Homo sapiens: one gene and its partner. The protein of the gene in region 1 purifies or fractionates together with the protein of each later gene. This does not show direct contact. Each region holds a gene or a part of one and is shown on either strand. Other genes may lie near its edges. The genes, in order: SASH1 and FOXP1.

Region 1 (3,822 bases):
GAGGGTCAGAGAGGTGGAGGAGGATCTGATTCTAAGGCATTCATTGTCATGAGAATTTTATAATAAAGGACTCTCAGGAATGCATCCTAATAGGACCTGTATTTCCAGGAGTAAAGTACTGCTGTATCTGTTAGCATTGCTTTGTCTTTGGAGTCACTTGGTATTGGTAGATCTCATTTTTTTTGAATGAGAAATAATTTTTCATTATACAGCTAAATGTTTTTGGTACAATGGGGGATTTTATATTATCTTTTTCCCATTACCCATACAGATAACTGTATAATACAATTATCACATCTGAATAGGGTTCTTTTGTCCACATTTATTTTATTTGCTCCTAGTAATCCCTCTAAGAGGTCTTCATGCAGGTTATTTTTAACCTCGGTTTACCTACGGAGAGATGAAATGGGGTGGTGTCAATATCTGAACACATGCATGTCAAGTAAGGTGTGGACACGTGGATTCAGGTGTCTCCTGTCCACTGGGCGGGCTACCGGGCTGGCTTCAGATGTGGGTTCATCTCACCTGGCTGCCTGACTTCTACAAACAAAGGCCTGTGAACGTGGTGGGCCCAGGACCTTTGATACCTTATCAGAATACGGCTCCTCCGTGAGATCGATGCCTTCAGCGTGCAGCTTGTTTTCAGTGAGCGTTTCTAGATCCACTCCCCGGGCACAGGAGACCTTCCTGGTCAAAGCCGGGCCCAGCTTCACACCGTGCTCCTGGAGGCTTGTGTTCTCGGGGAGCTCTGAGAGCCAGGGGGGCGGCCTTGTGCTTGGTGGGCTGCCAGGCGCCTGCCCTGAGAGAGGCCTGGGAGCCAGTGCTGGGGGACAGTCGCTAGGGCTGGTGGGGCTGGCGGGGCTGCCCCTTTTCACTGGCAGGCATGGCGCATCGGGACTGGGGAGGGCCCCACTGGGGCCCATGGGAACAGGGTGGAGTCCGTTAGCAAGGCGTTCTCTGCTCTTTTTGGCAGGAACAGGTGGAGGCTGTGATGGAATTTTGGGCTGCATTCTCTGCTCAGCATCTACCCCTTCTTTGGTGCCCAGGGGATGGTGTGTTCCTTCAAACTCGTGTCCTTTTCTGTGGCCCTCCAGAGGCGTCCTTGCTAAACCGTGTTTAGCTCCAGGAGGCTGAGCATCATAGTTTCTGGGCAAACACTGAGGGGGTGACAGGCCGCGACCAGAGGCTGCGATTGAGCCCTCCAGTTTCTTAGTTGTCAATTTCTGAGGTTCAGAAAATCTCTTGCTTTGGGTCAGTAGCAATGCATTGTCGACAGCAGAGTCTTGCTCCAGGGGCTGGGCCTTCGTGGAAGAGGCGGTCGTCTTCTGTGGCACTTCAGGTACAATCTGAGGGGGCGGTTCTGTCACCTCGGTAGGCACGTCTTGCTCAGCACCAGGCTCCACTTGAAGGTCATCCAGGGAATGGGATCGGGGCCAAGTGTCCACAGTCTGGGGGCCCTCCAGGGTCTCACAGCTCCGGCAGATGGAAACTGGGAGGCTTCTTCGGTTTTTATTCAAACCAGTCACACCAGGTGGGTCACAGCTCTTGGACGTGTCTGGGGCAAGGCCACCACCCAGCCTGCCCTCCTCCTGTCCCTGCTTCAGTGCATCCCCTGATTTCATTAAAGGCAATGTTGGGTAATTGCCCAACTGGTTTCTGCTAAAAGACTTCAAGCTGGGCTCGGTGGATGACTTGGCAGATAGGAGGCTAGCTTTCCGAGTCTTGCCTGTGAGACAAGGGAATATTTTACAATCACATTTTAAAAGCAAATCAATCAAACGGATGCATAAAGTTGTGCTAACATAATTGAAATCTCCAACACCCACATCCTATTGTTCAATTACACTAAAAACATAAAATCACCATTTATGACATCGGGTGATAGAGGGTTATTATGGTTCCATTTTTATTTTTAGAAAGAATTCTTAGTCTTATTAAAGGAATCATGAAGACTGAAATTAATTGGGTTACATGGGAAAGAAATACGCTGTGTCAAGCAGTAAAATAAATCTTGGCTTAAGTCTGTGCCCCACTGCAATCGACGTGGAAAGAGGCTGATCATCATACCGCATATTGATGAGATTTGTTGGGTGAGTACAATTTCTCAAGGTCATGATGGAAAAGGAGAGCTGGACTGAATTTCACAACAGGTTCTATAAATGGTATCCCCTACAGAGTGATCTGTGAATACTCAAATCCCACCTTCCCTGAAGCCCCTCCTTCTAGTAAGTTTATCCTAGAAGCAATCAACCAACCTGGACACAGACAGGTAAACTTTTGTGAGTACTTTGCCAAAGAAAATCTACAAAATACTGATAAAGTTTTAGGTCCCAGCAAAGCAACAGTCCTAGTTACAACTGCCAGACTGATAACTGAACTATCAACCAGACATAATCTACTTATCTGACGACTGGTAGTTGATACTAAACTGCTGCTGTTGGATAAGCTTTGCCAAGAACTTACAATTCATGGGCCAGACAATGTGCTGAATGCTTTGTTCTCATCAGTACTTACATGTGCGCGCGCACACACACACACACACACACACACACACTGTCCCTTGTTACATTTTTGGTTGATAACATGTTTGTTGTGTGCTTTGACCCTGTCCACCTGTATGTTCCACACTGATAAACACCAACATGCTATGCATTTGTAGGATATTATTGTTGTTACATAAAGATCATCAGCCTAGTGCTACTACTGAAGATATTGACCATGGTCCTACTTTTCATTATTAGAAAAATCATCACAACTTAAGGAGGCCAAGGCAGGTGGATCACGAGGTCAGGAGATCGAGACCATCCTGGCTAACACGGTGAAACCCCGTCTCTCATAAAAAATATAAAAAATTAGCCGGGCATGGTGGCAGGCGCCTGTAGTCCCAGCTACTCGGGAGGCTGAGGCGGGAGAATGGCATGAACCCGGGAGGTGGACCTTGCAGTGAGCCAAGATCGCGCCACTGCACTCCAGCCTGGGCGACAGAGCGAGACTCCGCCTCATAAAAAGAAAAGAAAAATCATCACAGATAAATGAAGAAATACCTCTTCAGAAAAAAAAAATTGCATCAGATTTTAAAAGTGGGTTGAAATAGAAAATTATTAGAACCTCTTTAGCATAAATTTAGAAATATGACTTTCTTTTCCCTTAACTCCCAATATAAAACTATATATATAAGTTCCATTTTTGCATTCTGCATTACATTAGAAAGATCCCTGAACTTACTTTGAGTTCAAAGTATGGTTCGCTAGCAATCTAGTTCTTCAGCAGGTACACCTGAATTCATTTGGGCATGAAAAATTCTGCCAGTGATATCTGTGAGATCCTTACCAATCACCAACAGTTGGGGGAATTAATTTCCTGAAAAGTTTTGGATATGAAAAGGTTATTAAGAGAAAAAAAAATTCTTCAGAACCTACATGAGCTACATAAGGATTCTGATGTTTACTGAAACTGAGGATGTACTGGGATACTAGGTGAGTTTTGCATCCTGTCTTGACCGAGGCTATCTGAATATTATATATAGTTTGGGGAGAACTACTATCTTCCCAAGTTGATAGAAAACCTTGAATAGCAGGGCATCATGGCTCAAATTCTGAGGTCCCCAAGATGCTTCTTAGAATTGGAATTAGAGTGAGGCAAACAAGGTGCCCAGAGGACAAACTCTAAGGAGGTGAATGCCCAGAGTCATGTGAGTGCAGGGCTGGTACCCGAGAGTGAGCACTTGCTTAGGGTTTGCATCCTGGACACCCACTTTCCTGTCCTTAGCCCTAGTTTTGGTACCCACAATGGCTCTCAAACTATTTTTTCCCATGATTCCCA
Region 2 (3,822 bases), on another chromosome or scaffold:
AAATTATCCTTTCATTTCCATTAAGACACATGGGCACTGAAGGGAACCTATGTTCAAAATCTTACCCTCTTTGCCTCAGCCTGCCTTGGAAGATAAAATATGAAAGGATCTTTAGCCATGAATGCTTTAAAAAATTTAGGAAGTCGAAGCATGAGGCAGACATTTTCTTCAGATTGCCTTTTATAAATAGAAATGATGAAATTTAAAAATAATTACCAGTTGTGAATATAATATTTAAGCTTAGATCTTCAGATTGCACTTTTTCGTTTTGCAAACTGCAGGAAAAAGTGTCATTAATATAAACAGCCTTAGATGAAATAGTGACTCATAAATACGTATAATTTTCTGTACGTGTCCTTGTTTGTACCATGATCTTAGACAAAAGATGAAATGCCCAGTTAAGGTTATGACTGAAAAGAGCTTACACATCTTTTTTTTGAAAACTCTTGACTTCTCGTCGCTTTCTGCTTAGATGTGCAGTTTTGGAAAACAGAACTGAAGTTTTGGCTTTGTGTCTTTACTCACATGGTTATATTGCTCAACCTGATCTACAGAAATTATTTTGTCAAAAGTAGCTTTAAGACCTTTCATTTCTGTACATTTTGATACTTATTTTAAAGCATCAAGCAGTGATTAGGATTAGGAGCAATGTTGACTTCTTTTCAAGTTATATCTCTTACATGTGTCATGCCCTGTCTGGATTTTTAAAGGAAATTGGCTCTGTCCGTTTATTTATACCACCTCAATTTTGTTCCAGTAAGTAACAGTAGACCTTCTATTGTATGCCTTTGGGCAATATATTTTTTTAAAATGCAGCCAAATGCAGTGGCTCCTGCCTGTGATCCCGGCACTTCAGGAGGCTGGAGGATCACTTGAGCCCAGGAGTTCAAGATCAGCCTGGGCAACATAGCAAGACCCCATCTCTACAAAAAATTTTTAAAATTAGCTGGGTGTGGTGACACATGTCTCTAGTCCCAACTACTCAGGAGGCTAAGGCAGGAGACTCGCTTGAGCCCAGGAATACAAGGCTTCAGTGAGCCATAATTGAACCACTGCACTGCAGTCAGGCAACAGAGCAAGACCTAGTTTCAAAAAAAGAAAAAAAAAAACTGCTTATTTAGACTAGACTGCAGTTTATATGCATAGAAAATTGTCCTATCAAGTGTATGACATGCCAAATGTTTTCGGTTTAGAGATTTTTATTTTTAAGCAAATCCTTCTTCCAACTTTTTTGAATCAGGAGTGTCCTTTCATAGTCACCTGGGTATCTTGAACCGACCTCAATTATGCTGACATTACTCAAAAACTTTTTGGGAATTTATCCTGTGAATTCTCCTTTCAAGCAATTCATCACACCATGCATTAAAAAACTTGTCTCATTATCTTCTAAATATTCCATATCAGAAAAGAAAAATCATTATGTAGCTTGAATCCTCACAGCCACCAATTGTGATTGTCCAAAAACTGAAGCACCTCTCAGAGTATCAAGATTCACCACCGTTAAGGATAATTCAGGAAGGAAATACTCCAGGTGGCAGAATGGGATGTGTTGGGGGGTGGGGGGGGGGGGGCGGTGTGCAAAACGCTTGTGCAATAGCAGTGTTGCTGGAATTGAGTGAGGACTTTACCCAGTGTGATGTATGTATCAACTTCTCAAGCCCCAATTGAGTCACCTACTATTGAGTCATCTACTTACTCTGAATAAGAAGAAAATTTTAAGTAAATGACCTGAATCTCTTTAGAATGTCTTCATGTCCAGCGTTGAGTCTGGATCCGTAAGTTTAACCAGGCGGGACTAAAGAAATGAAGCCTTGCTTGTTACTGTACCCAGTAAGGGTTGGGGATTCTTCTGAAACCCAAAGGAAAGATGAGATATTAAAAGCTCTTCACCCTTGAGTTGAGATCCTCCTTTTTGATAAATTATCGATGTTAAGGGTCTCAGCTTAGGAATGGCCAGAAAGGACTTTTAACCATAAGCAAGATATGTCTGCAGAAACCATCAACTGTAGGAATATAGTCATTTTGCCATTGAGAGTTCCACTCGTGTTCCTTTGGCATTTACTCAGTTAAAATACTTGCCGATAGTTAGGGCCAACTCTCATATTCTGGAAGGTGAGACATAACATGATAGCTACTGATCTCTTGACCGGGGCGGGGCGGGGCGGGGGCGGGGGGTCCGTTCACCACCCCCCGATCCTTTGACTATACAAGGCGATACTCTCAACGGTAAAATCCACTTTAGAATTCTTCATAGGACCTCTGGAAGTTTTAAAAGCCAGAAGCCATCAAGAACAAAACTGTATTTAGCAGTATTAACCAAGTGTTCCTCTTTCGTGGTTTGAAAAAAATACCCCCTTTTTATGGGAGGTAGGTGGGCTTAAAAAGGGCAGTTTCATACTTTGCATGTGTTGTTTTGAAGTCACAGTAACATTTTCAGATTTGTACTCTGGAACCTATTTTGGGCTTGTATGCATATTAAAAAATATTTCTGCTGGTCAGTTATTACCAGAGACTAGACGAAAATGCCAAAGTACGATTAATTTATAATTTTGGTTTATTTTTGCTTTTGGAAAAGACATCCTTAACCATGAGAAGGTCCTCCACGGGGGTGGTAGCTACAGCTCTTGGGGATGGTTTTACAAATGTGGACTGTTAGGCTGAATTTACTGCTGTTTTTGGAGTCTTTTCTTATAGAAAATGTAAATGTTCTCTCTTTTATACTTGCTGCAGAATGCAGTGCGTCATAATCTTAGTCTTCACAAGTGTTTTGTGCGAGTAGAAAACGTTAAAGGGGCAGTATGGACAGTGGATGAAGTAGAATTCCAAAAACGAAGGCCACAAAAGATCAGTGGGTACGTCCACCATGTTTGAACTTCTTAGCCTAGCTTGGATTGTGCTAACAAGTATAACGTAGAGGCTTTGGCTGCTAGATGGTGTTAGACCAAAGAACTGGTTTCACGTTGTCTCAGTTAAGGGAAGCAAAAAAGCATTTCATCCCTCCTGTTTTGTATACCCACCAGTCCCCCTGCCCTGCTTGCTGGTCTTTGTTGCATCACATGCTAGTAGCTTTTAGGTGGCAATGCATATTAACCCTCACAAACCATTTGCTTATGCTTATTGCATTTTATTTTCTTTTTCCTGTTCCCTGTATTGGATGTCTGTTCTGCCCCCAACCCCGTCTCCTTTTGTTGCCACTCCATCTCCTTTGCTGCTGCTCCTATCCCAGGGTGCCATTCGCACCAACCTCTCACTGCATAAGTGCTTTATCAGAGTAGAGGATGAGTTTGGGTCCTTTTGGACAGTTGATGATGAAGAGTTTAAACGTGGCCGCCATATTCAACGAGGCCGTCCTCGCAAATACTGCCCCGATGAAAACTTTGACGAGCTTGTCGCACAGTAAGAGCCTTTACTTGCTTTTGTTTTTTTTTTCTGCTGTTGCTTTGGCTTTGCATGGTTGACTCATCCCATGTAGTTTTGCATTTCACCAATAGCAGTGCCACAGCTTTCTGCAACGAAACTAAATTGTGTGATTTGTACATGTATTGCTCTCGTTTCTCTTTGGAACACCAGTGCCTTGAATAATGCTTTTTTGACGTCTTTAATGCAAATATTCGTTCTATTTTGATTCAGCAGCTTACGGGGACCCTAGAACTAAATACTTGTGCTTAACCCATAATCCCCCCTCTCTCCCCACCCCAAGTAAAAAGGGAATTTTTGGTTAGTTAAAATGTGTGTATATACTATTGGGGTAGATTTCTTATTTGTTCACTCACTATAATAATACAAATGTAATGAAGTGAATGACTAAAATGTTCCAAGCAT

The links.
Region 2: the proteins of SASH1 (region 1) and FOXP1 fractionate together in Homo sapiens (co-fractionation; one large-scale study listed by BioGRID). This does not show direct contact.

Annotation. Positions count from the first base shown.
Region 1 is NC_000006.12:148,541,584-148,545,405, reverse strand, and holds part of SASH1 (SAM and SH3 domain-containing protein 1), read right to left. Parts: intron 1,727-3,822; coding exon 588-1,726; intron 1-587. UniProt on the Homo sapiens protein: Is a positive regulator of NF-kappa-B signaling downstream of TLR4 activation. It acts as a scaffold molecule to assemble a molecular complex that includes TRAF6, MAP3K7, CHUK and IKBKB, thereby facilitating NF-kappa-B signaling activation.
Region 2 is NC_000003.12:70,971,585-70,975,406, reverse strand, and holds part of FOXP1 (forkhead box protein P1), read left to right. Parts: intron 1-2,730; coding exon 2,731-2,852; intron 2,853-3,226; coding exon of another isoform or gene 3,227-3,396; intron 3,397-3,822. UniProt on the Homo sapiens protein: Transcriptional repressor. Can act with CTBP1 to synergistically repress transcription but CTPBP1 is not essential. Plays an important role in the specification and differentiation of lung epithelium.